Regions from separate parts of the Homo sapiens genome. Here all the other regions are linked to region 1. The links come from fine-mapping of genetic effects on gene expression. A gene starts in region 1. Each other region holds a variant in brackets. All regions are shown on one strand. Distances are between the middles of the regions. Region 1 holds the start of SEC22B (SEC22 homolog B, vesicle trafficking protein). Region 2 has its middle 82 kb from the start of NBPF8. Region 3 has its middle 40 kb from the start of SEC22B. Region 4 holds the start of RNVU1-4 (RNA, variant U1 small nuclear 4). Region 5 has its middle 32 kb from the start of NOTCH2.

Region 1 (6,622 bases):
CCCTGGGGGTAGCTAATGGCCATGCCTGGAGGCGAAGCTTTTCAAAATGACTAACTTGGAAAACCGCCAAAGACAATGGAATCTGGCAGAACTGTGGGGAGCAGGAATCTTAAGCGTTTGCATGTTGTTGGGGTAGCAGGGGCTCAAGAAGGGGATGCTCAGGGCAATAGCTTTTTTACTAATCTGTAAGAAAATGTTCCAGTATTTTAATAGCTGGTACAGCCATACTGATGCATACAGTCCAGATCGATAGATATTGGTCCAGATACAGTGGCTATCTGTTCTTTTGCCTTCCAGGAGCACAGTTTCTCAGAAGAAATGTTTTTTCCATGTATATAATCATGTAATTCAAACAGGAGCTGCAGTTTACTTGCAGACCTCCTAAGTGACAGTGTTTGGTCTGGGGGTAGATACGGGCCACAAGTTGCTGGGACTATTCTTTATTCGTCCTCATTACTTAGCTTAGTGTCTGGTATAGAATTAGGCACTCGATAGAATTGTTTAAGAATGAATGGACACAAACCTTTAACTATTGCTTCGTTTGATCTCACTTGTAAAATTTCTGCAACTGTGTGACTGCTGTAATGGAAAGTCTTATCCTGTTTAGGCAGCTTAATATAAGTTGGTTTAGATATGTGCATTTCACGATTTCTTTGATAAGTTTCAAGAATTTGCTGGCAGCTGTAACTATGACGTTCAAGGCTTATGTTTACTTTTTTTTTTTTTCCTAGTACAACATTTACAAACTCCAAGAATTTTATCCATTTCAGAGGTGGTTGTCAGATTTAGGGCAAAGGACATATGTGGGCTTTATAAATTTTAAAGTTCGGTACAAATGTTTGTTGATACTCTTGTTTAATTAAATGTAAAATAGTTGAGAACCTTCCATGTACTTACTGATCACAGTGTTAACCATTATTACACAGTACTGTATTGCTCCAAGAATCAAAGGGCAGCAGCTCAAAGACAACACTTGGATGTGAATGAGATGAAGCTGATCAAGTCAGAAGGAAAAGGAATTCAGATGCCAGAGCTCCCAAGGTCTGAATAGTGGGCAGTTTCAAGACAACTCTAGTTTTCTCCTGATGGCTGAAATTATTAGCAGCCTAAGATCACTATCCTTTTCCTGGAATCAATGTGTTCGAAGGGTGCCAGAGTCATCTAGTGTGTTTACAAAGGATAAAAGTAAGAGGTGTGAGTATGAATGTTGTTGTTCCAAGAAATAATTGCTCCAGGGTGACTCCATGCTTTTATTAGTTTGCGTGTGTGTGTGTGTGTGTGTGTGTGTGTGTGTTTTGGTTTTTAAGTAACAAACTAACTCAAAGTAGCCTAAGCAGGATAAAGAGGGAATTTGTTATAAAGAAGCAATAGTGTTTGATAGAACCCAATGGCAGGAATGTGTATGGGCCTTGGGAGGAGCCTAGAGTCAGGAACTGAAAAAAGATGTGGATTCTTGCTCCGAATTTGCTTCTCGGCACACACCTGCATTCTTCTCTCTCTGCTTCTCTAATCAACATGGCAGTCTGTATCCTTAGTTAAAATATTTGTAGCATTAATTCCCCATTACTCAAATGACCATCATTTGAGGCTGTGGAGAAGGCATGTCCTTGTTGAGTGGAAGGAAGGGAAATTAGAACAACTTATATCTATGGGCTATTTTAAATGTAAGGTACTATGATTCTACCAACTTAGACTCCCATATACACAAGGATTCACTTCCATTCCACTTTCTGTCTCTGTTAATAGCACAATTTTTTTTGTCTTATTTATTGTAGTCCTTCATCTTTCATGTGGAGTCAATCACTAGGTCTTATTGGGTTTTGGTCTCAAAAGTCTATCATTAAATAATATTACTTTTCTTAGCAGCATAATTCACAATTGCAAAGATGTGGAACCAACCTAAGTGCCTGTCAACTAATGAGTGGATAAAGAAAATGTGATACACACACACACACACACACACACACACACCATGGAATACTACCCAGCCATAAAAAGGAGTGAAATAATGTCTTTTGCAGTAACTTGGATGGAGCTGGAGGCCATTATTCTAAGTGAAGTAACTCAGGAGTGGAAAACCAAAAACCGTATGTTCTCACTTAAGTGTGAGCTAAGCTATGAGTACACAAAGGTATACAGAGTGATATAATGGACTTTAGAGACTTAGAAGGCGGAGGGTGGGAAGGGACCTAGGGTTAAAAAACTACTTATTAAGTAAAATGTACGCAACTCAGGTGATGGGTGCACTAAAATCTCAGCTTTCACCACTATATAATTCATCTATGTAACAAAAACCCACTTGTAACCCAAAAGCTATTGAAATAAGAATCTTTTTAATAAAGAAAATGCCACACAAAAATAATATTGGTTTTCTTCTAATCCTGAAGGCCAATATAAAAGGTAACAAAAGCCTGAGCTCTTTAATTAATGGGTACAAGTTAAGACAGAATCACATCAGGATTTGAAGTTGAACCTGAGCTCAAATCCTGTTCCCATCACTGCTAGCTCTCTGAGGCTTTCCTCTCAACTACAAAGTGGAGATATAATACTAAACAAGCTTACTGGGTTGCTTAACTAATATCTAGAACATACTTAACAGTGTTTCTATTAATGCGAGAACTAACTGTAAGCACTTAGTAAAGAGTAGTCATTATTAAGCAATGATAAATAAAAGCATTTGTATAATTCTTTTTTTAGCTTTTGAAAGCCTTGCACCTAGATTTTCTCATCTAATATTCATTAAAACCCTGAAAGGCCGATCATATCCCCACTTTAGAGATGGGGACACCAAAAAACAAAGAGATGGGAACACCTAGATATATCAGAGATCCTAGTTTTTATTTTATTTATTTATTTATTTATTTTTTTTTTTTGAGACAGAGTGTCGCTCTGTTGCCCAAGCTGGAGTACAGTGACGCAACCTCGGTTCACTGCAAGCTCCGCCTCCCGGGTTCACGCCATTCTGCCTCAGCCTCCCGAGTGAGTAGCTGGGACCACAGGCGTCCGCCACCGCGCCCGGCTAATTTTTTTGTGTTTTTTTAGTAGAGACGGGGTTTCACCATGTTAGCCAGGATGGTCTCGATCTCCTGACCTCGTGATCCGCCCGCCTCGGCCTCCCATAGTGCTTGGATTACAGGCGTGAGCCACCGCGCCCGGCCTGATCCTAGCTTTTTGTAGGTGACTGACCTAGGTGGTACAAGATGTCCTGTACTTGTTCATTTATTCACACATACAACACATATTTATTGACTTCTTACCATAAACTGTTTAAGGAGCCTGGTGGGGATACCGCATAAACAAACAAGCAAAAATAGACAAAAATCTTTGTCTAGAAATATATAAATATAGAACATTTTATAGAATATATGACATAGAAAACAGAAAAAAATAAATATGAAAATAGCCTAATTTTCAGGGTTTTCCTTTTTTTACATACCCTTCATGGTTAACGGTTAGTGGTTAATGGGGATTACCCATTAACTCCCACCCTCCTTCCCAGCTCTCTCCCAAGACTTAGTTTCAGGAACTAGAAAATTCTGATTCAGCTTGGGTGCAATGGCCGCTCAAAGGGCGAGGCTTATTCGAAGCCTCAAATTCAGAAAACCCAGCCAGACCTTGGAAGTTAAGAAGGTGGAAGGCAGATCGCGGAACCAGTGTTCTGATAGTTGTGGTTCTCTGAGGGAAGCCAATTCTGGGGACCGGTAGTGGAAAGCTCTTGCGCTGTTTCCGGCCACCTCAGCGGGAAGCGGAGACGCAAGCAGCTGGATCTCCGGTAACTGAGACATAGGGTATAACTGTTGTCGCGGCGGAGGAAGTGAGGACGGCGCCAAGGGCCTTCCGGGCCAGTGTTGGATCCCTGTAGTTTGTGAAGATGGTGTTGCTAACAATGATCGCCCGAGTGGCGGACGGGCTCCCGCTGGCCGCCTCGATGCAGGAGGACGAACAGGTGAGCTGCTTACTCACGACCCGCGACCCCAAGTCTCTGTCAGCGCGCTTTGCCCTCAGCATCGGATTCCTTCCTAGGACCGGGAGACCTTTGTGACTTCCCGGGCACTCCCGACCTCTCTGAAGTGCGCTTTTATCTTTTGGTGTAGGAGAGACTACCGGCGAAGAGGAAATCTTTCCTGAAGGAGGAGTTAAGTTTTTTGTGTTAGCTGTTTCTCTTTAGAAAAACGCTCTGGAGAAGTGGTAGCTTTGGTTGATTGTGATCACCCAGTGTTCTTTGACTCTTTAGGGACTTTGTTAAAATTCAGGATTTCTAATTTTCTGCTGCTAATAGGACTGCTGATGGATAAATCCTGGGAAAAAATCAGCCAAGTTCTTCAAGTCTATAACGTGGCACCTGATCCTTGACCTAGCTTGCTGACATCTTTTGAAAGTGGGTGAGGTAATATTGCCACATAAAAGCACCTGTTAAATTTCAGTACATCACATTCTTTCAGGATTATCCCCAGTTCCCACCTTCTCCAATACGCCGTACCACATTCCTGCAATACATTGTAACTTATTTTTTTCTTTGTCTTTCAATAACTTGAGTTTCCTAGCGGGCAAACGACGGGTCTTAATCATCTCTTTGTTATCCATACCTTTTACAATAGCTGCTTTATGCTAGTAGGTGCTCAAAAGTATACTGAATTGATTAAAAACAGCACTAACTCCAGATGTCTTAAAAGAAAGATGTTTTGTGTTTTAGAAACACAGTGGAAATTTCTGAAGTAAGACAAGTTTCTGGAGCAAGCTTGGGAGGTTCTGAAGACAAAGCTGAGAATGGAATTTATATAATTTGTTTAAAGTGATCAATTTTATTTTACTTTTCCATACAGTCTAAGTAAAACCTTGAGCCTTAAAAAAAGATGAGATATTGAAAAAATAGTTTGCACATTTCTTCTGTTGGACTTTTCATTCATATATTAATGCAAAAAATTTTTACTGAGCACATCAAATGTGCCAGGCATAGTGTTAATGCAGGGAGTTAGAGTACACAGTCTCTACCTTTGTGGAGCTTACAGTCTAGTGGAAAAATCAGATAACCAACAAACTATTAAAATGTAGTTTAACTGCTAAGGAGAAGGAAGAGGGTTTTGTGCTTGAACATGGAAAATATATCTAAGTTGGTTTTAGGAAATCAGGAAAGTCTTCCCAGAAGGTATGACACTAAGGTAACAGTAGGATCCAGTAGTAAGGAACTATTATTCTATTTGGTTATATGCCTTTTTAGGTTTGATTTGGAAATATAGTTACTTTCACTTTTAGGAGAGTGGTGATACAGATAATAAAGTTGCAGGTCATGCTAAGTGAAATATATTCTATTCATTACATAAAAACAAAGTCTAATCTTTGAAATAAACCGTGAACAATTTAACATACCCCGATTTGCTAATGTGAAATGTTTTTCAGGAATACTCTAGGACCATCCTGCAGAAGGAGTGTAATTGTTCAAATGAACCTAGGAATATGATTTGAACAAAGTAGATAGTGCAGGGGAATATCCTTGAAGGATGTGTAGTTTGACTAAAAAATAGTTTTCCTACAGTGGGTGGCTGTGTGTTGGGGGTAGGGGGGATGGAATCTGGTCAATTTTTAAATTATTGCATTGAATTCCAGTGTTAGCAAAGAATACAAAGTGAACTTGAAAGTCTACTTAATATTAGTGGCCCCTACTCTCTGCCATGATACTTTATTGAAAAATTAATTGATTTATTGTTTTTTAATTATAAATTTGGTATTGGTTTCATATTGGTTTATCAAGATGGGATGCTTTGTTTAATTGACAAGGAAAGAAATTTTACACACAAATATTTTTGTGATTGTAGTGCCATAGTATTTTCCTTTAGGAATTTTGACTTTGAATAATAAAGTTTGCCTAAACTTTTAATGTCTGTAAAGATCTGAATCTTAGGCTTACTTTTACTATTTTAATAGTATACAGAACATTTATAAAAGCGCCTACTACATACCAAACACTGTGCTAAGCCTATTAAGTTCATTTTTTTATTTAATCCTCATACTACCATATTAGAACAGGTACTATTAAAATCTCCAATAATAGATAAGGAAGCTCTGAGGCTTAGAGAGGATAGATCACTTGCCTAAATTCACAGCTAATGAGTGGCATAATGAAATTTTTCATCAGGGTTTTTCCCCTTGGCACTGTTGACATTTGGGGATGGATAATTATTTGTTCTTGGGGACTGTTCTGTATATTGTGTAGGAGGTCCAGCAATATTCCTGGCCTCTACCCTCTAGATGCCAGTAGTACCACTACCCTTCCCCACTTTGTTTGTTTGTATGACGACAAAAATATTTCTAGACATTGCTAAATGTCTCATGGGGGCAAAATCACCCCAATTGAGACCCAGTGGTTTTTATTAAGTTTTTGTCGACTCAGACAAAAACTTAATAACCACTGTACTTTAGTGCCTAACCACTGTACTTTACTGCCTTGTTCTAAGGCCTTTTAATGATGTCTTACCTCTTAGGAGTCCAGGAATAACTTTTTAATAAACAGATATCTCAACCAAACAGTTTTATATTTAATCACCTTAATTGTCCAGGCCAGATAATTCAATGTATTTTCATTTTTGTATGTTTTTGTTTTCTTATCAGTGTACTTTCAGTATTT
Region 2 (6,622 bases), 320 kb before region 1:
AGAAGGTGAACTGGAATTTGAAGAAATACAGGGGCTTACCAGGCTGGGCGAATAGCTTAAGTACAAAGTCATGGTGAGTGTTGAGTCAGTGGGGACCAGCCTGCCCACAGGAGAAAATTAAAAGACACAAAAACAAAAACAAAAAAACCTTATAGAAATACCACTAATAGGACCTAAATTTCAATCCTGGATTTAAATATTAAGGACATTTATTGAAGACTTTGCTGCCTGCTGAAATAATAATCTAATATTTGAGAATTTTGATATATTTCTTCATTCTTTAAATGGAGAAGGGTATTCAAAACATAATGTGAATAAGTCACAGCAGGCTGGAACAGAGGACGACATCAATGTCGTGAAATTTAGCAAAGATAAAAAGCAAAATCCTGAGCTCGATTAAAAATATCAGTGGTAGAAATATAGGTTGAGGGTAGAAATATAGGACAGGCAGCCATTCATGGACATGAGGGTTTGGGGTTTGGTAGAAACATGTTCACACAAGTAAGGTGTAGGACAAAGGTTGCTAGAAATGCCAGCTCAAACTGGAACTACAGTAGTGTAAGTGTGATGTTCGCCTGTGGAGACCATGTCTAAAATATTGTTAGATTAAGGGGCACCATCTTTGAAAAGGGCGTTGACACACTAGGGAACATAATGAAGACAGGGCGCACAATGGTGTGGACCAGAAATCTCCAACTAGTCAAAGAAACTAAAGAAATGTAGGCTTTCAAAAGATCTTGAGGACATGAGAACTGGCTTCGGATATTTGAAGAAGTGTCAGGTGAAAAAGAACTCATGTATTTTATGTCCCTCCAGAAGGCTAAACAAAGAGTGAAGGGCAGTGGAAGTTAGATTCGAATTATCATAAATCCTGATTTAGTTTCCTGATTTTCTAAAGAGAAGGTGAACTGGAACCTGAAGAAATAGAAGGGGCTCACCAGGCTGGGAGAATAATTTAAGTACACAGTCATGGTGAGTGTTGGGTCAGTGGGACCAGCCTGACCACAGGAGAAGCTTGAGGTTGGAGTGAGAAGTCAGGATGGTGGAGCAGAGTCACCAAATCTTGAAAGCTCACAGGTCAGGGTAAAAGTTGACATTCTGTATAGTAGATAATGAAACTAAGTCTGTTCTTTTTCAAAGAAGATAAGCATATGATGAAAACAGAACTTTAGGATGCTAAGTCTTAGGGGATGTCCTGGAATTGGGAGACATTAGAATCTGGGAAACGTATTGGATGGGTCTAGTGATATTCTGGCACATTAAGAGATGACAGTCTAATATAAGGTGCTATTGGGAAGATGAAAGGGTATAGATAGATTTTAAAACATCTCTTAAAAAATAAGCAAAATTTAGTGAGAAGTTGGGTTGAGAGAGAGAGGAACATCATAAAACTTTGGGCAAAATTCAAGAGTAGATTATTTACCAAAGTCCCTAAAATTGGTTCATCCTGAGCTCCCTTTCCTTTCATGCTTTTCTCCCTGCCTTTTAGGACTCATTTCAAAGCTACAACCACTAAAGCTCCATAATCTCTTATCTGTAATTTCAAAATCCAGTAAGATTTCCAAATTAAATTTTTCAAATACTCATTTAGTGACAAAATCTAGATGATCTGACATGAGGATATTCATAAGTCTTTATTTATCTATTTAGAATATTCACATAGCTCATTGCGGAAATAGTTATATGTTTGATAAAGGATTGTGGCTCACATGCAACTGGGTACATGTTATATATGATATATGCACCCTGTTGCCTTGCTAAAAACTAAAACAAATTTTACCTTTCGAAATACATTTGGCCTTAAGGTTTTCAGATAAGGGATTGTAGCCTCGTAGAATATTTCTTAGATCTCTTCATCCCCAGTACAAAGAAATAGCCATGTGGTGAATGGAGGTAAATATACATACATATATATATTTATATATATGTGTATGTATATATATGTGTGTACATGTCATATATATGTACATGTATATGTGTGTACATATATATGTACATGTATATGTGTGTACATACATATGTACATGTATATGTGTGTACATACATATGTACATGTATATGTGTGTACATACATATGTACATGTATATGTGTGTACATACATATGTACATGTATATGTGTGTACATACATATGTACATGTATATGTGTGTACATACATATGTACATGTATATGTGTGTACATACATATGTACATGTATATGTGTGTACATACATATGTACATGTATATGTGTGTACATACATATGTACATGTATATGTGTGTACATACATATGTACATGTATATGTGTGTACATACATATGTACATGTATATGTGTGTACATACATATGTACATGTATATGTGTGTACATACATATGTACATGTATATGTGTGTACATATATATGTACATGTATATGTGTGTACATATATATGTACATGTATATGTGTGTACATATATATGTACATGTATATGTGTGTACATATATATGTACATGTATATGTGTGTACATATATATGTACATGTATATGTGTGTACATATATATGTACATGTATATGTGTGTACATATATATGTACATGTATATGTGTGTACATATATATGTACATGTATATGTGTACATGTATATGTGTACATATATACACCTATATATAGTATGTATATAAACACACATATATAAACACACTATATGTAGGTGTATATATATGTACACACACACACACATATATAGAGAGAGAGAGAAAGAGAGAGAGAGAAATTGAAAAACTCAGTTATAATCCCTCGTCTAAGGTGCCCAACTCACATTCTCACATGCTACCAAAAGACCTCCTCCTTCTCTTTCATTTTTGAGAGTGAGGACTATGAAATCTCTTTCTTCCTCATCCCCTACCCTTCTCTAGCTCAGTGCTGACCTTCTACCTTGGAGTATCCTATACTTTAGCCTACAGGACTAAGGTTACTATGGAGATGAAATATGGACTTATCTTCATCTGCCAATCAAATGCTCTATAGGTGCATGTGTGTAACTTAAGCCGCAGGGAAGTTTCAGACTGGATGTGTGCCAGCTCAGTGCCATCCCCAGGCCACACACAGAAATGGTGACACCTCCATCACAGATGGGTTGCATGAGACTCAGATGATAGTGGGGTCCTTGGCAGAAAAGAATGTCACAGAGGAGGGTTCTGACAAGTGCTTGGAAATACTTGGGTGAATGTTACCAGACTCCTTCTCTCTCAGCTTACAGCCTGGATGCCTGTCACCAAATCCCTTTGAGCAGTGACCTGAGCCACCTGGTGGCAGAGGTACGAGCTCTGAGAGGGCAGCTGGAGCAGAGCATTCAGGGGAACAATTGTCTGCGACTGCAGCTGCAACAGCAGCTGGAGAGCGGTGCTGGCAAAGCCAGCCTCAGCCCCTCCTCCATTAACCAGAACTTCCCAGCCAGCACTGACCCTGGAAACAAGCAGCTGCTCCTCCAAGGTAGGAAGGAAAAGGGACTTAGAAAGCCCTTGGCCAGTGGGGAGATCACCAGGAAGTTCTGCGGCAGAAGGTGTAATCTGCCTGGTCCATGCTCCTTAGGGTCAGGTTGAAATCAGAGATGCTCTAGTCTAGCAGCCTGAGTGAAAGCGTGGGATTTAGGTCAGACTGGGCTCCAGATTCTGAGTTTACCACTTAGAGGTCGTTTGATTTGGGCAAGGTGTCTAAAGTCTCAGAGGTTTAAGCTTTAGTTTCCTTATATTTAAGATGAGGATAATGATCATATGTACCTTATATGATTTTGAGCATTAAATGAAATCATTTACAAGTGCTTGGCACACTAAGAATTACTCAATAATTAGCAGCTGTATATGTTCATATCTTTTTCTTGGATTTGCTTGGTGCTTTAGTTTTAGCCAAGTGTTTTCACATATATAATTTCATCTGAAGTAAAGCAGGTTTTGCTATCTCTGTATTTCACATAAGAAAACTTAGGTCCTGAGATATTAACAGACAAGCAGGGGTTTAGAGAAGTTATAGACAAAGCCAGAATCAGAACCAGATGTTGTGATTTTCAGTCTGTGTTCCTTCCAGTTCATTGTGCCCTGTCTCAGTATTGC[C/T]GACCTTCCCAGATTCTCTAGTCCCCCTTTCCCTCACAGGTGGGGAACTCAGTGTGTGGTAAAATGTTCCTGCCCCTAAGGAAACAGGGCTCTGGGGAAGTCCTGGATGGTGGGTGATTTATTTCGGGTGGCCATCATTCGCTTTCTCTACCCCACCCCTTGCCTGCCTTTTCAGATAGGCGTGTTTGACCAGGTCCCCCTTCTCTTCTCAATATCCTCTATCAATCTCACTTCTCCCAGTTTTCATTGAAATGTCAATGGTGTCCCCCTAGTCTCTTAAATCATTCAATTTCTACTTCCTCTGTCCTTTTCTCCTTTTGATACACCGTTTAGTACACCATCTCCACTCACCTCCATGGCCATACCTTCAATTTTATTCAAATCAGGAACCACTTCTGTTCAGTTTCTCTAAAGCTGAGCTTTCAAACTCTCCTGCCAGCTATTTCTGGGTCATGTTAATCTTTGTTTTTCTGTGGTTCTTGTAGATTCTCATTTATCTGACAGTAACCTTATTTGTCAAATGAAGGTGACAATAACATGATTATGCTGTTTTGGCAATTCAATAAAAAAACACATGTGGTCCACCAAGCAAACCGCCTGACCACCAGGAACTGCTCAGCTTACATTAGTTGGACATCTTGCCCTCCTCTGGGCTGCCCTGATGGTTGTGGTGTTCAGTTATGTCTCCAACTCTTCCTTCTAACCAGGCCTTCTTCTCTCACTGGCTTCCCATACAGCAGCCAAGACTCAGCCCCACTGATGCAGTCCCTGCCCCTCTTTCTCTAGCACCCCGGAGGCCTGAGCTGGAAAGCAGGCACTGGGCCACACTTGCCTGAGCAGGACCTTTTCTACCTTCTTTGTGATATTTTCCAATTCCTCCACCATAGGGTTGCTTTTTAGTCTCCAGCAAGACAATGTTAACCCACCAAGCCTTCTGTCTCCGTTCTTCTCATACAAGTCAATTTTTTTCAGTATTACCTCATCAGAATGATGACTAGAATGTTGAGTCCCCCATGAATCCATTCATTCCTTGATTCTTTGATTCTAGATTTTAATCTGTACTATGTATATTTATACATATTACATTTAGTTACAGGGCATCATATTAGATACCACACACAAATTATACTTAAGACTCGGTTTATAAAAATACACCTAATAATTTTTCAAACTAGAAGTTACGTTCTCATGGAACACCCCTCAATTACAGGAATATCTTTTTGTTCTGAAGAATGGAAACATTCTGAACTCAGTGACTCATAGGCTTTTGCTTTTGCTTTGGCTTGTGGGGTATGGATAATTCTGTAAGAGGAGAGTCCTGCCACCTTAGGTCTCAGTGGGGACAGCTAGGTGTGCATGTGCTTCATGTGCAGTGTGTTCCAGGGCTCCTGAAAACTGTGGTTGCCTTTACCCCCTAGATTCAGCTGTGTCCCCTCCAGTCCGGGATGTTGGTATGAATTCCCCAGCTCTGGTCTTCCCCAGCTCTGCTTCCTCTACTCCTGGCTCAGAAACGCCCATAATCAACAGAGCAAATGGTAAATATGGCAACTAAAGGGCCCAGGGACTGATGATGGAAAGTGATTAATGCAAACAACCTTTTGTTGTCTCTAAACATATTATCTGTATTTAGAGAGTTTTCTCTGCATGCCCCAAGGCCTTTAGCCCTACTCCCTGCACCTTCTGTGGCTGCCTTTCTTGCCATTGTTCATCTTCCTGTAGTTTTCCTACTGCTGTTTTTGCTTCATTGCACCATAATCTCTCTATTCTTGAAAATGCTGTCTGTATCCAGCTTGACTTCCTTGTCTGTGTCTTCTCTACTCAGAAACTTATTATTTATTATGATTCATCCTATTTCATTTGCCAATAAGGAAAAAATTGTCTCCTGGCAAATTTATCATTAAGAGATAATGTAAGAAAGATTATAAAAATATAGAAGCCAGAAGATCTCTATGGACTTTGCCCCACCCTTGTACATTCCCAGGCTTCCTTTCTTGTTCCCGGCCTCGTCCTTTTCTTGTTCCCTACCTCTTTTTTAGTTGGAGCAAACTGAGGATATCATTATGAATAACAGAAGATTCAGTTGTGTTGTCATTTTCTTTTTCAGGCTTGGGTTTGGATACTTCTCCAGTAATGAAGACCCCTCCCAAGCTAGAGGGTGATGCTACTGATGGCTCCTTTGCCAATAAGCATGGCCGCCATGTCATTGGCCACATTGATGACTACAGTGCCCTAAGACAGCAGATTGCGGAGGGCAAGCTGCTGGTCAAAAAGATAGTGTCTCTTGTGAGATCAGCGTGCAGCTTCCCTGGCCTTGAAGCCCAAGGCACAGAGGTAATCACACCTGAAGCTTTAGGTGCACTCTTTCCCTGTGCCCTTTCTTCCTTTGATGTTAACTCCTTCTCCCACCATTTTTGTTTTTTTCATGCTTTGCATCTCTCAACAGCTGAGACTTCCTCTTCCATGTATAGCAGCCAGGCCCTTTCTTCTCTATCTCCTATTTTCACTGTGAGTTCTGCTCTGTTCCAGATGTAGCTGACTGGATATTTCCCCT
Region 3 (6,622 bases), 40 kb after region 1:
CATGCCTGTAATCCCAGCTACTCAGGAGGCTGAGGCAGGAGAATTTCTTGAACCCGGGTGGCAGAGGTTACATTGAGCCAAGATCGCACCATTGCACTCGAGTCTGGGTGATAGAGCAAGACTCTGTCTCAAAAAAAAAACAACAAATAGTCAAAAGCCACAGTTGCTGGCGAGGCTACCAAGAAAAGGGAATGCTTATCTATTGTCGGTGTGAATGTAAATTAGTTCAGCTACTGTGGAAAAGTAGTTTGGTGATTTCTCAAAGAACTTAAAACAAAATTACCATTCAACCCAGCAATCTTCATTACTGAGTATATATCTAAAGGAAAATAAACCATTCTACCAAAAAGACACATGCACTCACATGTTCATCACAGCGCTATTCACAATAGCAAAGACATGGAATCAATCTAGGTGTTCATCAACAGTGGATTGGATTTTTTAAAATAGGGTATATACATAGCATGGTATAATACACAGTCAAAAAAATGAGTGAAATCATATCCTTTGTAGCAACATGGATGGAGCTAGAGGTCATTATCCTGAGTGAATTAAGGCAGAAACAGAAAACCAAATGTGTTAGTAAGATCTCACAAGTGGGAGTTAAGCATTGGGTACTCATGGACATAAAGATGACAACAATAGGTACTGGGGACTACTAGAGGCAGGAAGGAGGAAGGGGGACAAAGCTTGAAATACTTACCTATTGGTCACTATGCTCATTATCTAGGTGAGGGGATCATTCACACCCCAAACCTCAGTGTTATGCCATATACCCATGTAACAAACCTGCACATGTACTCCTGAGTCTAAAATAAAATTTAAAATTATTTTTTAAAATAAATAAATAGGTCGGGCGTGGTGGCTCACGCCTATAATCCCAGCACTTTGGGAGGCTGAGGCGGGTGGATCACTTGAGGTTAGGAGTTCAAGACCAGCCTGACCAACATGGTGAAACCCCATCTCTGAAAAATACAAAATTAACTGGGCGTGGTGGCATGCCCCTGTAATCCCAGCTACTTGGGAAGCTGAGGCAGGAGAATTGCTCGAACCCGGGAGGCAGAGGTTGCAGTGAGCCGAGATCGAGCCATTGCACTCCAGCCTGGGCAACAAGAGTGAAACTCCATCTCAAAAAAAAAAAAATTAAAATTAAAAAATAAATAAATAAACAAAATTAAAAGTTGCCATGTTGAAAAACACTAATCCATCTTGAGATGCAAGGATCTGTACAAATAAGACTATATACATGAACTTCAGGTTACATAAAGGAGCAGTTTCTGTTTGTAGGTGGGGGGAGTAAACTTTTTGTGTTTCTTTCTGGCTCATTGTAGGATCACATTATAATTTTGCTTTGATACAAATTTGGCAACAGGAATCATAATTCTTTTTCCAACTGACTACAGTGCTTGTATACTTTTAACGAATAATCCCTGTGAGTTGTACAAAGCCTTATATATTCAACAAATCAGTGAAGTTTTTATCCTCTTAATATTTACTTTGTAGCTTTGCTTTGAACCACCTCAGCCCCAGTTCTACACAGTTGGCAGTAAAGATATCTGCAAATTCCACTCCCCCATTTCCTTTCTGTTTTGCCCTTGGTTTTTCAACAGTGAGATGATTGTGCCTTCATTTCTGGGTGCATCCCTTCACTTATTCCTTATTTCCCTTCTCCATCCCTTACTCCTTCCTTCTCTTCCCCAGGCCTTCACAACCTCTAGATTTTATTACTAGCAACTTCTTAGGCCAATCCCATAGCATGCTCCTTCATGCATTACATGAACAAATTTTTTGAGGGTGCTGAACCAAACAATCAGGTGTCTTTTTTCAAGAGTGAACAAGAAGCCACTTTTTAAAAACAGTTTTATTGAGATATAATTTGTATTCTATAAAATTCGCATTTAAAGTGTACAATTCAACGGTTTTCAGTATATTTAGCAGTGCACCCGTCACCATAATTAATTTTAGAATATTTTCATCATCTCCAAAAGAAACCTTATATTCATTAGCAGTCACTCATCAATTCTATTCTCCCATACCCCACCCCTTTATTCCCTCTAGTCCTAGACAAACACTAATCTGCTTTCTGTTTCTATGGATTTGCCTATTCTGGACATTTTATATAAATGAGATCATATAATATGTGGTCTTTTGTGACTGGCTTCCTTCACTTAGCAGAATGTTTTTGAGGTTCATCTATATTGTGGCATCTATCTGTACCTCATTCCTTTTTATTGCCAAATAATATTTCATTGTATGGATATTTCACATTTTGTTTATCTGTTCATCAGTTGATGACAAATGGGTTGTTTCTACTTTTTGGTTATTGTGAGTAAAGTTTCTGTGAACATTTGTGCACAAGTTTTTGTATGGAAATATGTTTTCATTGCTTTTGGGTAGATTCCCAAGATAAAAGAATTGCTGGGTCATATGGTAACTCTATTTTTAGCATTTAGAGGGACTGTCAAACTTTTCCAATGTGGCTACACCATTTTACTTTCCCACTAGCAGTGTATGAGCTTTCCAATTTCTCCACATCCTTACCAACAATTATTATTTTCTGCCTATATTATTATAGCCATTCTAGTGGGTGAAAATTGATATCTCATTGTGCTTTTGATTTATATTTTCCTAGTGACTTTTCATGTGCTTATTTGCATATTTTTCTCTTGAAAAATATCTTGTAATCCTTTGCCCATTCCCAACTTAGATCACTTGTCATTTCTTATTGATTTGTGTTTTTTATATTCTAGTCCCTTAACAGATAGTATAATTTGCAAATATGCTCTCTGATTCTGTGGGGCTGTTCTTTCACTTGTTGGTGTCCTTTGAAGCACAGAAGTTTTTTT[A/TA]TTTTGATTAAGTTCAACTTATCAACTTTTTTCTCTTTTATTATTTGTGCTCTTGATGTTGCATCAAAGAAATTACTGCCTAACTCAAAGTCACAAAGATTTACTGCTTAACTCAGGTCAAAAGAGTTAGTTTTCTTCTAAAAGTTTTATATTTTAGCTTCTACATTTAGGCCTATGATTCACTTTGAGTTAATTATTGTGTACAATCTTAGGGGTCCAAATTAATTCTTTTGCATGTGGATATCCAGTTGCCCAGCACCACTTGTTGAAAAGACCATTTTTTTTCCCCCATTGAATTGTCTTGGCTCTTTCGTTGAAAATCAATTGATTGTAACTGTTAGGGTTTATTTGTGATTCTCAATTCTGTTCCATTGATCTGTATGTTTATCCTTCTGTCAGTAACACACTGTCTTTGTTACTGTAGTTTTGTTGTAAGTTTTGAAATTGGGAAGTGTGAATCCACCAACTTTGTTCTTCATTGTTTTGGCTTTTATGAGTCCCATGCATTTCCATATACATTTTAAGAGCAGCAGAAATTGACAAGTTGATTCTAAAATTCATTAAAAACCCTCACTTCTAAGAAACAATTAAAATATTTTCTTTCCAACCTAGGATGAAATTGGATAAGGAGGACTGAGCAGGTACATTTTTGAGTTGTGGTGATGGGGGATGGGTCATTTGAAAGGGGGACCAACCTGATGGAGGAGGGGAATAAAGGAGCCACAAAGTTTGGTAAACTTCCCACCCTGGTGAGAGGAATGTTTGTTCAGAGGAGGCAGTTTGTTCTAACACCAGGGAATATTATGAAAGATAATTGAAATTGTAAAGTCCATTGATATCTCCGCAGAAGACAAAAAGGTCTCTAAGTAAGCAGTATTGTTAGCTTGTTGATTCTTACAGAAGAAGATTTTCATCCAACTAAGGGAAGCAGCTGGGACTTTCTCAGGGCTGTAAGACAGAAAAAAAATGAAGAAATTCCTCTGTATCTTTTCTTACCTCTCCCTGTGGCCGGCCCTAACTTTTGTCCATTTTTGTTACCCTTCCCTTTTATAAGCTCCCCAAAAAGAGAGAGAGGAGAAAGAGAAAAAGAAGAAAACCATAGTGGGAGAGAGGGTTAGAGATCCTGGGGATGGGGGAGGAATTCTGGAGCATTTCAAATTAAAGATCCCTAAGGTACTATGGGTGGAACCTACTAAGTAATATGACAACTTGTAGCAAGAGTCATAAGGATGATCACATCTTCAACTCAGTGATCCAATTCCTGGGAATTTATGTAAGGAAATAAGACAGGCAAAAAGTGTGAGTGGGAATGTTAATGAAAATATTACCTATAATAGTGCAAACAGGAACAACCTAAATCACCAAAATAGAAGCATGTTTTATGACATCATGGCATGTAAAGATGGCAGATTATAATACTAGCTTCACTGTCAAAATATACTCTGAATTGCATCACTTTTCACTGCATTCTGTATTACTCTGGATCAAGTCACTATTATTCCTCATCTGAATTATTGCAATGGCCTCCCAACTGGCATTTCTGCTTTCACCCTTGTTCCCCACCCCCAGTCTACTCTCAACACAGCACTCTTAGCAGTCCTTTAAAAACTTAAATGTAAAATTCATATGGAATCATAAAAGGGCCTAAATAGCCAAAGCAATCCTAAGCAAAAAGAACAAATCTGGAGGCATCACATTACCCAACTTCAAATTATACTACAAGGTTATAGTAATCGAAACAGCATGGTACTGATATAAAAGTAGATGCATAGACCAGTGGAACAGACTAGAGAACCTGGAAGTAAAGCTAGATACTTAGAACCAACTGATCTTCAACAAAGCATACAAAAACATAAATTGGGAAAAGGACACCCTATTTAGTAAATGGTTCTGTGAAAACTGGAGAGCCACTGGATAGAAGAATGAAACTGGATCCATCTCTCTCACCACATACAAAAATCACCCTAAGATGGAATAAAGACTTAAATATAAGACTTGAAACCATAACAATTCTAGAAGAAAACATAGGAAAAATTCTTCTGGACTTTGGCCTAGGCAAAAAATTATGACTAAGACCCCAAAAGCAAATGCAACAAAAATTTAAACAAATAAACGGAACCTGATTAAACTGAAAGGCTTTTGTGCGGCAAAATATATAATCATCAGAGTAAAGAGAAAACCCACAGAATGGGAGAAGATATTTGCAAGTATCCATCTAAGAAAGGACTAATATCCAGGATCTACAAGGAGCTCAAACAAATCAGCAGGAAAAAAAAAACAAATAATTCCATTAAAAAGTGGGCAATTTACATGAATAGATGCTTCTCAAAAGAAGATACACAAATGGCCAATAAACATGGAAAAAATTTCAACATCACTGAACATCAGGGAAATGCAAATCAAAGCCACAATGAGATACCACTTTACCCCAACCAGAATGGCCATTGTTAAAAATCCAAAAAGCAATAGATGTTGTCACAGATGTGGTGAAAAGGGAACACTTATACACTGCTAGTGGGAATGTAAATTAATATAACATCTATGGAAAACAGTATGACGATTTCTCAAAGAACTAAAAGTAGCAATCCCACTGTTGGGTATCTACCCAAAGGAAAATAAGTCATTATATCAAAAAGGAAAATAAATCATTATATCTGCACATGTATGTTTATCGCAGCACAATTGACAATGGCAAAGGTATAGAACTAACCTAAGAGCCCATCAACCAATTAGTGGATAAAGAAAATGTGGTATATACATGCCATGGAATACTACTCAGCCACAAAAAAGAATGAAATAATGTCTTGCACAACTTGGATGGAGCTGGAGGCCATTATTTTAAGTGAAATAACTCAGGAATGGAAAACCAAATGCCATATGTTCTCACTTATAAGTGGGAGTTAAGTTATGGGTACACAAAGGCTTACAAAGTGGTATAATGGACATTTGAGATTCAGACAGGGGAAGGTTGGGAGGAAGGTGAGGGATAAAAAACTGCATATTGGGTACAATGTATACTACTAGGGTGACAGGGGTACTAAAATATCAGACTTCACCACTATACAGTTCATCCATGTAACCAAACACCACTTATACCCTTAAAGTTATTGAAATAAAAATGTATTTAAAATTTAAAAAAGAAAACCTAAATGTGTCATCCACTACTCAAAAGTTTCCATGGCTCCTTCTCATTTAGTATAAAAGCCAATGTCTTTGATTAGTCCTGGGCCCTACCTCATCTGGCCTCCATCTGTGACTTCATCTGATATTTTTCTTCCTGTAACTCCATTCTGAACATATAGGCCTCCTAACTGTTTCTTGAATATAACAGGCCTCCTCCTGCCCCAGTGACTTTTGACTCTTCCCTCTGCCTCAGAGTCTCTTCTCCCAGATATGCATTAGTTTGTTCCTTCACTGCCTTCAGATCTTTGTTCAAATGTAACCAATGATACTTTCTTTTCCTGACAATCGTATTTAAACTTGCTATCTTCCTCCCATCCCTCAGCCTCTAGCATATCCTGTTCTTCCTTGCTTTATTCTTCCAACGCTTATCATTTTACCTGACTTATTTTTCTGGGCTGTTGTCTATTCCTCCCCCTGTAACCCATGCTCTATGAGAGCAAGGATTTATGTATTTTGCTCACTACTATATCCTCAGTGTCTTGACTATTCCTGGCACAGAGTAGCTGCTTAATAAATAATTTACTGAATGAGTGAATACATCCACAAAAGTAGTGATTATGAAAATTGGGTCATAATTTGAAAAGTGGAAAGTA
Region 4 (6,622 bases), 770 kb before region 1:
ATTCTTCCTTTGGGAATCTCGGTATTTTTATCTAGAAAGTGGGAGAAGTGGTTGCAAGACTAAACACATAATTGGTAAAGAATCAACAGTCAATACAAAAGTTAGCCAAGTATGGTTGGGCATGCCTGTAATCCCAGCTACTTGAGAGGCTGAGGGAAGAGAATCACTTGAACGCAGGAGGTGGAGGTTGCAGTGAGCTGAGATGACGCCCCTGCACTCCAGCCTGGGCAACAGAGACTGTCTCAAAAAAAAAAAAAAAAAAAAACTGGCCTGGTGCAGTGGCTCACGCCTATAATCCCAACACTTTGGGAAGCTGAGCGGGGCGGGGGTGGATCACAAGGTCAGGAGTTCCAGACCAGCCTGGCCAATATGGTGAAACCCAGTCTCTACTAAAAATACAAAAATTAGCTGGGTGTGGTGGCAGGTGCCTGTAGTCTCAGCTACTCGGAAGGTTGAGGCAGGAGAATTGCTTGAACCCAGGAGGCAGAGGTTGCAGTGAGCTGAGATTGTGCCACTGCACTCCAGCCTGGTGACAGAGCAAGACTCCATCACAAAAAAATAAAAAATAAAATCATTAACCGTCACTATTAGTAGCTGGGATGTTTGATCATATTATGGTTTGAACAGTGTTCTTTTTATGTTCAAATATGATTGTGAAATAGTATTTCTTTCAGTTTAGTGAGAGGGTAACTTTGTCTGATATTGGTGTTGTGAAATTTTTCGTTTTAACCATAGAACACCATGGCCTAGGTGTTTGTCAGACCAGCTCTAGCTCAGAGCAGAAAAGGCTTACCTTTTTCTTTCTCAGAAATGACTATGGAAAACAGTAAACAACAAGGGCCGGGAGCCATGGCTCAGGCCTGTAATCCCAGCACTTTGCAAAGCCAAGGGAGGCGGATCACTTGAGGTCAGGAGTTTGAAACTGTAGCAGGAGTCATAGACAAAATCCCTCAGACACCCGATTGTGGAATGTAAGAGCTTTTTTCAGCTGGGACCATCGGTAGACTCACATCCTAGAAACCGAGCTCCCCAAATAAGTAATTCTTGTCCCTTTTAAGGGCCCACAACTCTAAAGGGGCTGTGTTGGGGGGGTCATGATCAACTGAGCAAGCAAGGGGTACGTGACTGGGGGCTGCATGTACTGGTAATCAGAATGAAACAGGACAGAAAAGGGAATTTCATAATGCTTTTTTATACAATGTCTGGAATTTATAGACAGCACAATCGGTGAGGTCAGCGGTTGAATTTTAACAACCAGGCCCGAAATGTGGCACCCAGTTGTCTGAGCGTGATTTTCACTTCTGCCCATTCTTTCAACCTCCACTTTTTCAGCAAACAAGAAATTAAGTGTAAGACAATATGAGGAGTGGTCGCTCTCAAAACCAGCTTGGCCAACATGGTGAAACCCCATCTCTACTAAAAATAAAAAAATTAGCCGGACATGGTGGCAGGCACCTGTAGTCCCAGCTACTGGGGAGGCTGAGGCAGGAGAATCGCTTGAACCTGGGAGGTGGAGATTGAAAGTGAGCCAAGATCCCACCACCGCACTCCAGCCTGGGCGACAGAGCGAGGCGAGACTCTGTCACACACAAAAAAAGCAGTGCCTTCAAAAATCTCAGAGAGAAATTATTTCCACCTATCTTTTTGTATCTCTATCTAGTAAAATATCAATTAATTTTATGGGTATAAAAGACATTTTCAGACATGCAGTGTCTCAAAAAGTTTATTTCTAAGGTAACCACTTTATAGGAGGTTTTGGAGGATATGCATCATCAAAAGGAAGAAGTGAGTGAGGAATGAACCCCCTTGAGATCCATGAAGCAGGGGATCTAACAAGAGAGAGGCGATGGAAATCCCAAGATGGTGCAGTAAAGAGAGATATTATGATAACAGCTGTGGGATAAGCCTGAAGAGCAAGTCATCCAGAATGGAACATATAGAAATGTGCCAGGAAAAATTTCTTTCTTTCTTTCTTTTTTATTTTTTATTTATTTTTATTTTTTGAGAAGGAGTCTCGTTCTTTTGCCCAGGCTGGAGTGCAATGGCGTGATCTCGGCTCACTGCAACCTCTGCCTCCCGGGTTCAAGTGATTCTCCTGCCTCAGCTTCCCAAGTAGCTGGGAGTACAGGCGCCCGCCACCATGCCTGACTAATTTTTATATTTTTATTAAAGACGGAGTTTCACCACGCTGGCCAGGCTGGTCTCGAACTCCTGACCTCAGGTGATCCACCTGCCTGGGCCTCTCAAAGTGCTGGGATTACAGGCGTGAGCCACCGTGCCCGGCTGCTCTTTTTTATAGACGAAGAAATTGAGGTACAGAAAATCCAGTAACGTTTTAAAAGTCACGTCATGAATGAACCAAGATTTCAACCCAGAAATTGAGGCTTCACTACAAGTGAAGACTGGGGTTTTCTTGTTTTCAATTATTGGGAGTTTTGGATTTCCAGGAATGTGCAATTGTAAAAACCCAGCTTCAAGAGGTGATGAAATAGGTGCAGTGGCTCTGGCGTAAGCTCTGAAGCCCCAGGCTCAGGCTCTATTGAAAAATTACTTTTGCTGAAATATTCCTGTTTTTAGGAACTTCCATGGAACTTGAGCCTTCACGCAGCATATTTTGGCATCTGATTCAAAGCTAATAGAGGTCCGGAGGATTCCCAGGATTAAAGTCTTTAAACAGAAACTGTGAATCTTGCCTAAGCAAAAGGTGCCATCCCTGGATGGGCTTGCACCACCAACCTTTCAGTTAACAGTCAAACGCGCTAACCGATTGCGCCACAGAGACTCTAATGGCTTGTGTCTTAAACTCATTTGCTGATACCAGAAATGGCTTTTTAACCTCTGGCTGCAGATAATCTCATATATTTGATGCCTGTCCAATCCCGCGCACTCCAGAAACCCAGAATACGGGAGACAATGAAGCCAAGAGTCGAGTCTTTGGGCACTTTGGACGTTCTACCCGGGCAGAGTCAGCTGGGGGACTCCAACGGCCAAAGGGCCACCTGCTCCTCACCGTCTGCTCTTCACTGCTTCCCCCGCCTGCTCTTCACCCTCTCAAAAGTCGCTGGCCCCTCTACAGGTGACAACTGCAGCTTCTCCGGCGAAAGCCACTCGCTTTCCCATTCTTAGCCCCGCTCACACCTTGCGCTCACAGTCATTTCCGCCAGGCCTGGGCCAGCGGACGCGCGCGTGGGAAGGACCAGAACCCGTGGTGTCCTCACTGCGTCCCCCTCGGGCCCTCAGAGGTGGGATCCACAGGAAAGGGACCTGGAGTTTGCACAGGCTGCAGCCCTTCGCCCAGAGCCACCCTAGCACCTAGTAGGTGCCCAATAAATGCTCAGTGAAGGAAGGCATTCCACCGCAGGGTTTTAGGAGAACCATGAATTCCTGGATGAACATTAAGCGTTTAGTCCTACTAGGAAGTCTGGAATATAGAGACTTGAACTGTTTCTCAAAGGCAGCTGTTCTTGTATCCCCAGAGCCGGTTTAGAATCCAGCAAAGGCCCCTGCCCGGTGTATCCCACCTCTGGAGACCCGAGGATAGTGCGGTGGGGAGCACCGCGGGTTCTGGTCTTTCCCACGCTCACGTCCACTGGCCCAGGCCCAAAGGAAATGGCTGTGAGAGCAAGATGTGAAGATAGTTACAAATACCAGCTAGGGCCAGTGACAGTTGCAGAAATGAG[G/A]ACTTGTAATAGTTAGGAGTATTTCTTCATTATTTTGAGATGAATACATTTGGTTATATATTAACCAATACTTTTCTTGAGAATTCTCATCTTCCATCATCCTCGCTATCATATTCATTAATAGTTAACTTTTAGAAATCTCAATATTTAGGTTACAGGATAGCAAATATGGAATGTGATCTAGCTAAAAAAGGAGTGAACATCATTCAAAGACAAATAAAAGACTTTATCCTGTTGGGGAAAGGGTTGGCATATTTTCACTGAATGAGAAAAAGTATGATTTTCCTATTGTCTTTATTTGAACCTTAAGTATGGCTTTACAAGGAGGAAAAAGGAGGAAGAAGAAGAGAAAGAAGAGGATGAGGAAGAGGAGGAAAAGAGAAGGAGGAGGAGGAAGGTGCACATTGATGCCACTTTGAGAAGAAGTGGACTGTGGTGGATTTGTAATGTATCAGTTTTGCCAAGCTGAATGCACATTTCCCAGATTTGCCATCTTTAGATAGCTCTAGGTTAGCCTGGGCAACAGGAGACACTTGGAAGATAGAATTCAAGTGGCTGTTACACGCTTTTGTATACTGGGAAGGGCGTTGTTACAGCTCAGGCATGATCTTCATCTTCCCTGACCCTTGGACTGGTGGGTGTTTTGCTTCTTGATCTAACATTAAGGTTAGAAGTTGCAGGATCCCAGCTGGGTTTTGTTACATCCAATCTGGTTTAAGTTCCCATATTATTAGGAAAGCTTTAGGGTGCTTCAGGAAAACGCTTTTCAAAAAATCAGATTTGGAAAATATCAAATGGAATTACAGGCAATAAGCATAACCCAGTGGAAACATGAATCAAACCCTCTAGAGCAGGGTTGTCTAAATTTTGGGTTCCTTGGGCCACACTGGGAAAAAAAAAAAAAGACATTTGTCTTGGGCCCAGCATAATATACACTAACTGCAACTGAACCGTGCGTGTAAAGCTTGTAAACAAAATCTGTCTGTAAAGTCTGTAAACAGGCCAGGCGCGGTGGCTCAGGCCTGTAATCCCAACATTTTGGGTGGCCGAGGCGGGCGGATAACTTGAGGTCAGGAGTTTAAGACCAGCCTGGCCAACATGGTAAAACCCTGTCTCTACCAAAAATTCAAAAAATTAGCCGGGCCTAATTTTTTAGTGGCCTGCGCTTGTAATCTCAGTTACTTAGGAGATCGAGTATTCTCTGGCTGAGGCAGGAGAATAGCTTGAAGGCAGGAGGCAGAGGTTGCAGTAAGCCGGGATCCCGCCATGCACTCCAGTGGACTGTTTGCTGTTAATAAATGTTTACAATGGGCTCCCGTAGGGAAAAGAAAAGCTTAGTTTTATTTCTATAGAACAAAAAAAAAAGTTAAGAGATTAGTAGAGACGGGTCCACCATATTTGACCACACTGACATCAAACTCCAGAGCTCGAGCGGTATTAACATAAAGTTATCAATGCATCTCACAGACTACTGAGATTACAAGCGTGAGAACCAACCACTACCTGGCAAAATCTTTACTTTGAAAGTAAGTTACAGATGGGAACAAAGACCTGTTTATTAGTTTATACTAACGCCTTGTATATGCTTCCACAGCAAACAAAATCCACTTTTAAAACGACAACAACCCAGGGAAAAACACAGACACAGTTCCCCACTGCCACAAATTATGTAATCAAGATTCCCACATTCGGGGAAATCACAGGGGTCAGCACATCCACAGTAAAACTGCTAAGCCTTGCTCTGGAAAAACCACCTTCGTGATCATAACATTTCTTCTGCCAGATAAACATAAGTATAAGCTCACGCCCCTCCGCCCCGCCGCAGCCTCATATGCCTCACCCTTTACACGCAAGGTCACTTGCGTCACGCGCATCCAGGAGCCATCCTAGCCCTAACACACAGCTGCGACTCTCCGGTCCGACCAGAGGTCCCAGACTTACTCCCACGGCACGGGAACTCTTTCGTGGCGAAGCAGCAGGTGGCGAAGCAGCAGCCCCTGCGCTGCCTCATCTACATAGAAATCGCCCTCTCCGTGATGTCACCGACAACGCCTTCTGGATCCCCGTCTGCTCTTCCGCCTCACCCAACGCCCCTCAGCGGAGCAACCAGCTGTCGGAGCCGGCGGGAGAAGTGACTTATGCCTGTCCCTTCTTTCTCTCCTGTCCCCGCCCCTCGTCTCCCGCAATGAAGCGAGTATTTAATCTGTGTCCTGTGGAAGTCCCATTTGGCGGCCAGCTGGAAGCCCGTGCACCCTTCTTCAAATAATGGCTTTCAATGAGCAGACTAGAACGTTTAGGATTACAAAGGAAACCGATTCCTTTCAAACTTGGTTATCTTTGTGATGTGGCACTGTGTGCATATCTTCGTTAAAACGCATTGAAGGCCACTGCACTCCACCCTGGGCGACAGGAGGTGACTGTGTCTCGAAAAAACCAAAAACACTCCCCCCTCACCCCAAAGCATTAGACGTCAAGGCTGGCAGGGATGTCTGTTCTCTTGAAAGTTCAATATCAAAATACTTGGAAATTAAACTAAAATAGTAGAAGCAAGAACAAAAATTAAGTTGAAGATAATATCAAGAATATTTCCCACAAACCAAAATAAGAATGTAAAAACAGGAGAGAAAAGTTCAGGAAGATAGACGTCCAAGGTCCATATGATTAGCATGCGTATCAGAAAGAGGATAGAAAAAAATCAGTACAATAATTCAAAACACTTTCCATACCAATGGATTGAAACTACAGTGAATTTAAAGTATTGAATTGATATTGAACTTTCAAGAGAACAGACTTCCCTGCCAGCCTTGATGTCTAATGCTTTGGGGTGAGGGGGGAGTGTTTTTGGTTTTTTTGAGACACAGTCACCTCTTGTCGCCCAGGGTGGAGTGCAGTGGCCTTCAATGCGTTTTAACGAAGATATGCACACAGTGCCACATCACAAA
Region 5 (6,622 bases), 76 kb after region 1:
CTCCCTGTGGCCACCACAACACCCATAACTTGAGACTCGGTAGGAATTCATAGGCCTTGAAATCCACTGGGGCCCTATCTCTCCCAAGAAGGCAGTGGAGAACTTTGTGAGGAAGAAAAGCAGATGACTGGGCCCTCTGCTAGGATTACTGGGATCCTAATACTGTCTGGTTCCCTCTCTCCTGGGCCAGCTCAGAAGGACCATAAAATTAGATCTTCTGAGTGCCTAGCACCTTGTCTGCCTTCCATCGTTGCATTTGGATGACAGAGAGTTTGCAGAGAACACAATGCCTCTTGACCTATGGCAGCAGCATGATCAGTATCCTGCAGGACTTTCAAGGGGATGCTTTTTGCTCTTCTTGGAAAATGTCCTAATATATCCTGAAACATCCACATGCAACCTGACTAGCTATGCTTCATACAATACTCTGGCCCCAACAGTTCTGAGTTACCTGAAACATCAGCACCTTCAAAACAGCACAGAAATGTGTGACATTTCTGAACCAAGTTCAGTGTAGCCAGTTATCTGTGATTCTGGAGTGAGAGACACCCTGGTCACTGAGGTTACCTAGACATTTTCAAGAGATGTCTAACACCATTTTGTCTTTTTCTGTGCAACTGCCCTAGTAATGACCTCCTAAAATAGAGAAGGAAGTTTCCTGATGTGCTGAGGTTGACACTATGTTTGGCAAGTCAAGACTCGCTGCACCTCTGCTCCAGTACAGCACAAGCAAGCACTGACGATGTGCCAGGCACTGCTGAAAGGGCTTGCCTATATTAACTAATTTAATACTCATGATAACCCTATGAGCTATATGCTATTATTATTGCTGTTTTGCGGATGAGGAAACTGAAACATGGAGTGATAAAGTAACTCCTATAAAGCCATACAGGTAAAAAATTTACTAAGAATAGAAATGAATGCAAGCAACTCAGCTCCACAGTGTGTCCTCTGCACCTGCATGCCAGCTCTACACAGCTGGAACCTAGCTTCATTCAGCATCACACTGTTGAGACTGGTGCTGCCAACACTGTGGAGTGGGCCACCCTGACCCAGGAGAAGCTTTATGCCACACTTCATTATCCCTGCGTGGAAAGGGGAAGGGCCTGTGGTCAAGCATGTTTTCAAGCCCTAGAGGGTCCAATGTGTGATAGGGACTTCAGTCTGCCATAGCCTGAAAGCTCAGCTCATGCTATGCAAGGCAGCTCACCTTATCTGTGCTTGGGTGCTCCATCAGCTGTGTGCCCAGCACTCAGAATCACAGACCAGATTCTCTATCCTGAAAGCCTGAGTACAAGAGGTAACAGAGAGACTCACTCTGGAAGACTATGGCTTGAGTATTTCACAATCATTCTGCTCAAATGATGTATTTTAGACATTTATGCATGGTCTTAATCCTGATACAGGGCCTCTTGGGGCAATATGGATTGATGTTAAATGCCACGAAGGTCTTTATAGGAGTAAGGCAGTGCTCATCCCTGCTAGGAAGGCCAGAATGCAGCCTCAGCACAGCCACTGGCCCTCTCTGAGGTGATATGGTCTGGTACACTACCACAAAAGCACCTGGACCCAAAGCAAAGATACCTCAGGGTTCCTCTAGAGCCGCGGTGACTCCTTCTGATCCACACTCGCATCTGAAACTCCAGTTTTGGGACTTCTATTTGTTGTCTGCCCGCTTCCTGGATTGATTGATTGATTGATTGTTATAGAGACAGGGTCTTGCTATGTTGCCCAGGCTGAACTCAAACTCATGGGCTCAGGTTATCCTCCCACCTCAGCCGCCCAAGTCATTGGGAGGTCTGCCCCTCTTGACCTCTTCCCTGACTCTGCCCTCTTCCCTCCCTGCATTGCTCCTCCACCCATTCCAGTCATTTATACCCTGATAGGTAAAAGAGGGCTTCTACTTTCATGGTCTCTCAAAGCACTGCTTTCCAACCACAGCCCTCAGCTATGCCTCAGTTTGGGCCTATCAGGTCTACATCCACATACCCACCACCCCTAGACAGGTGACAAAAGTAGTGCTTAAGAAATAAATGTGCTTTTTTGCCTCCCCCACACAACTGACTGCTCTGGCTAATATCACTGCTACACACTTTGCTTTCACTAATTATTATTGCCTGCCCTCCAGAACTGTTTTTTTTGCATACAACGGTTTTTGTCCTTAGTGTTTTTTTTACACCTCTTCTTGGTTTTATTATTATTGTTTTTTATTTTTTTATTTTTTGAGACGGAGTCTCGCACTTTGGCCCAGGCTGGAGTGCAGTGGCGCGATCTCTTGACTCACTGCAAGCTCCGCCTCCCGGGTTCACGCCATTCTCCTGCCTCAGCCTCCCGAGTAGCTGGGACTACAGGCGCCCGCCACCATGGCTGGCTAATTTTTTGTATTTTTAGTAGAGACGGGGTTTCACTGTGTTAGCCAGGATGGTCTCGATCTCCTGACCTCATGATCCGCCCGCCTCGGCCTCCCAAAGTGCTGGGATTACAGGCGTGAGCCACCGTGCCTGGCCCTCTTCTTGGTATTATTGATATTCCTGCAGCTAGACAGTACCCGGGAAGGAATGCACCAACTAGAAGGAGCTTTAATGAGCCTACTATGTTATGGCTGGCATCAGCCTTCAGAGAGGTTTGACATAGGATGCCATCTAATTCCCCGCCAGCCCATTCATTCTATCCAACTAATGGGAAAACTAGAGGATTGCTGATAATAATAGCATCAGCAAAAATAGTTACCATTTATCAAGCATTTACTATGGGCCAAGTACTATGCTAAATGCTCTGCATATATTTTCTCACTTAATTCTCAAAAAATGCAATGAGGAGAATGCTATTTTATCTCTAGCTCACAGCTGAGAAAACTGACCTGCCAAAAAAGCCGCTTAATGAATAAGTGATAGAGCAAAATTTTGAATGCAAGTTAATTTAAAGCCTGGGCATTCAGCCACTCTGCTGCCATTATCATACATCATCTGACTTCCTTCATGTCCCATCTCCCAACTTCTGTTTTTTATTTTCTCTTTTCCTGATTCTCCAGTTACCCACCCTAGCAGTGGAGGTGATATATATGAACTGCATGCCAAAGTGGGTGTAGACTCATAATGACAACATAATGACACCAACTGGACCATGGGAAATGGTGAAGGCAAGAGTAGTTATTTTAACTTGGCCCTTTGAAACAGAGACCCTGCCGCAAGTTATGAGGGGTTTAAGTATTTTCCTGTTTCATTTGCCCTTAGATCCCAAACACCTAGAACTGTGCCTAGCTCATAGTAGGAGCCCAAGAAATACCAGCATGGAAACCTGGAAAGCTGGGGTAAATCTGATGAAGAGCACAGGAGCCTTAGTAAATCCGGGTGATCTGAAACTGGCTCTTAGTTGAGCCAGATGATAGGATCTTAATGACAATTGTGCACCACTTCTCATTTCTTGCGACTCTTTGCAGGTTTGCTTCTTGCTGTCTTATTCCAACTAAAAAATTCTGTTTACTTTTCATGTATTTTCTCTACCTCAGAATTGCTGCTTATTCATAAATTCTGCCTTCTTATCACATGGTTCTGCTTCCTCATAGTTTTGGTTTGCTATAATCCTCCATGGCTCCACTCCATTGTATGCCATCCTTTCAGCTTCAGCTCCCATGGCTAACTGCTTCTTTCTATCCATGTTTCCCAATTCAAATCCCAGAAGGAGAGAATCTGATTGATCAAACTTACCTTTTCCATTCAAGCCCTGGTTTTTGGGAAGGCAGCCCCTAATGTCAAGGGCCAATCATTGGTCCAATCAGGAGCCATCCCTGGGCAAAGAACAACCTACCTCTGCTTCTCAAAGCAGGGGGCTGTGGGTGGGGCACTTTCATCTCAAAGAGGAAGTTGGGTGTGGCAGG[C/T]ACTGTGTTGACATATCCAGTATAGGAGTGCCCTGGGAGCCCATCTCTCATTTCTGAAAGAGATAGCATTGTAGATCTGGACGTTTCATCACATATTCCCAGGAAGGCCCAGCCAAATGCAGCTGGTAAGTTGCTGAATGTGGAATTCCTCTTGGCCTTCCAACTCCTTGCACTCTTCCTTCTGGGACTACTTTGGTTTTTCAGTTTATTACCTGTTTGGAGTTGGCTTGTTTCTGGACTCTCTCTTCTGCTCAGGTGAGCAGACTTCTAACTGGAATACCTGGCTCTTGGACAAGGTGAGTGTTTGGATCCAACTTTGGTTCTGCACCATTCTTTCAACTTGGATGACATTGCCTCACCTCTTGTATCCTTGTCCTCTCCCTTCTACTCAATCCACTCTGCTCTGGGTTATTATTTACCTGAGGGTGCCTTCCCTTCCCAGACCCACCAACATACTCCTGAGGGAAGAACATTCAAAAGCAGCTGGTGGCTTCAGTGAGATCAATTTTTAGAGGAATGATCGGGGCAGAAGCTAGATAGAAGCAAGTTGAGGAAGTGGAAATAGTGAGTGCAAGACACTTTTCTGAGAAGTTTAGATGAAAAGGAGGGGAAGAAAACAGCTATGTGTCAAGAGTTTGGTGTGTGTGTGTGTGTTTTATTTTTTTTGAAAGAATTTGCTTCTTATTATATAACACATGATTTTGTAAAACATTTTGAAAAAAACAAAAATTATAAACAATATGTTTACAATTGCCCATTAAACTACTACGTAAGTAATTACAATAGTTACCAATTTTTGAATACCTACTAAACAGAAGAATTATGCTAGGAACTTCATGAATTATTTTTCTATTTCTTGTGCAATACAATGTCCCAGATGGGTCAGAATTCAGACAGATATGGCTGTGATGCAGAATTAGACAACGTCTCTTCCCTTTAAGCAATGATTGGCATCCATTGATTTATAAGGAGGCTGAGAAGTTTGCTGGGGGCAAAATGGAAATATTTGCCTCAGTAGGGTCTTCAGCATTCATGGGCATGTCTGGAGACAGTTCCAGAGGTAGGCAGAGTGCTGGCAGGAATGGTGGGGCCCCTGGAGAGAGCACCGTTGGTTGAGGAAGGAGTTTGTAATGGTAAGACTGGGCTTTAGACCTGGAAGGTCATGGTAAGTCTGACTGTCACAGGGAAGGGCCTAACCCAGCTTCCTTGCATGTGTCTTCCCAGAAGAAAACAAAGAAGGGCCTCTGAGTCATGGAAAGAGCCATGAAACTCTTTAATGCTCTAGGGCCTATCGCCCAGTAACTGGTAACTCAGTGTTATATTAAGGAAGAGAGCTTTTCTTTTCCCACTTTGAAAGAGGATGCTGACAGACATCACAGGGGCTATCATAGCCCTCAATTTCCCATAAAACCGGCACCACAGTGCCAGCTGTGATTGCAGAAAAAGGTTTTTATCCAAGTTGTGTTAAGGAAATAGTAGTTGATTTCAGTTAATTCAGTCATAACACTTTACCTTGAGCATTAATGCTGAAAAAGTCAACTCTCTTACTTCCTGTTTTTCAAAAGCATTATTGGCTAGGGTAACTGTGCAGGGCTCCACGCTGACACCGTTTGTGGACTTTTAGCTCACAGTGGTGCTGTCAGTGCCAGCATCTTGGTGTCTGGCTAACTATAACAATACACATGATGACAACACTGGCTTAAGAACACAGGTAAGATCTGTCCACCAATGACACCCAAATGTCTTTGTACAAAAACACCTACTCGATGAGGCCCTCCCTGACCACCTTATGTAAAACCGAGCAACCCCTCTGCCTTCCTACCCTCTGCCTACCCCGACTTTCTTTCCATAGCACTTATCATCATCTCATGTTTTGTCATTTTTGTTTCTTTTTCTTCTTTTTTAATCATCGTTTTTCCTATCCCAAAAAGCAAATGCCAAGAAAGCAGTGTCCAGGTCTGTCTGTTTATTGTTGTGTCCCCAGAGCCCACATCAGTGACTCACACAGAGTGCTCAATATTTATTGAGTTAATCCATTTCATGAATTTCTCATAAATATTTGGGGAAGGATAAGAACTATTAAGATTTTTAATTAACATGATCACATTTGGATTTATAGCTCAGGAGAACCAAGGATATTTGCTTACATTTATACCACCCTTACAAGGTCCATACTCTAATATGGCCACTTTACAGGTGAGGAAACTGAGGATCAGAGTGAAAGCAACCTGCCTCAGCCCCCATAGATAATAACGATCAGAGCCAATATAAACTGGTGTAGTAAGTAAGAAGACAAAGTAGGTAGTATTGCTATAGGTAAAGCAAGAGCTAAGGAAAGCCTTAGTTGATATGGCAGAAATAGGAACAGAGAGAAAGGGACAGAGAAGGAAGAAACTGTGAAGCCTGATTAGAAATATGGAAGGCAGAATTCAATATACTCCTAGAAGCAGCCCATGAAAATAAAATGAAGAAAGAAGGATTTTTTTTCTAAGAGGAGGGTGGCTTCAATTTCTTTCAGAAAAGATTGGCTAACTGAAAACTAAGAAAGAAACAAACCAAATCCTTGTAGCTTCTAGCACATCTATGATAAAATTCTGTTAATTGGATTTCATACTTGGATTATAACTGCACAACACAAGAGAGTAAAATGCCTTAAGACAAAAAGAGTAAAAATTGAGTCATAATATGGAGACGATACTATTCTGGCAATAGTATTCAAAGAATGGACCAGGGAGCAGTGCACAG

What was found.
Region 2: its variant is fine-mapped to the expression of SEC22B in whole blood (TOPMed, PIP above 0.99).
Region 3: its variant is fine-mapped to the expression of SEC22B in whole blood (Lepik 2017, PIP 0.95).
Region 4: its variant is fine-mapped to the expression of SEC22B in whole blood (TOPMed, PIP above 0.99).
Region 5: its variant is fine-mapped to the expression of SEC22B in whole blood (INTERVAL, PIP above 0.99).

The regions. Positions count from the first base shown.
Region 1 is chr1:120,173,631-120,180,252 of GRCh38, reverse strand. It overlaps SEC22B (SEC22 homolog B, vesicle trafficking protein), which reads left to right and starts at 3,733. Exons shown (of 5, transcript NM_004892.6): 1 at 3,733-3,946. The coding sequence starts at 3,872. RefSeq lists enhancers at 3,572-3,701, 3,480-4,045, 3,742-4,111, 4,046-4,611.
Region 2 is chr1:120,494,014-120,500,635 of GRCh38, reverse strand. It overlaps the pseudogene PDE4DIPP2. Among named protein-coding and RNA genes, the nearest start is that of NBPF8, 82 kb to the right of the region's middle. The variant C/T (reference allele first, on the strand shown) is at 4,072.
Region 3 is chr1:120,133,230-120,139,851 of GRCh38, reverse strand. No RefSeq gene overlaps it. Among named protein-coding and RNA genes, the nearest start is that of SEC22B, 40 kb to the left of the region's middle. The variant A/TA (reference allele first, on the strand shown) is at 2,847.
Region 4 is chr1:120,941,449-120,948,070 of GRCh38, reverse strand. The region is part of intron 2 of LINC00623 (long intergenic non-protein coding RNA 623); the gene reads right to left. It overlaps RNVU1-4 (RNA, variant U1 small nuclear 4), which reads right to left and starts at 5,471; the gene lies at 5,308-5,471. RefSeq lists enhancers at 4,840-5,543, 5,475-5,784, 5,533-6,247. The variant G/A (reference allele first, on the strand shown) is at 3,681.
Region 5 is chr1:120,098,034-120,104,655 of GRCh38, reverse strand. No RefSeq gene overlaps it. Among named protein-coding and RNA genes, the nearest start is that of NOTCH2, 32 kb to the right of the region's middle. The variant C/T (reference allele first, on the strand shown) is at 3,878.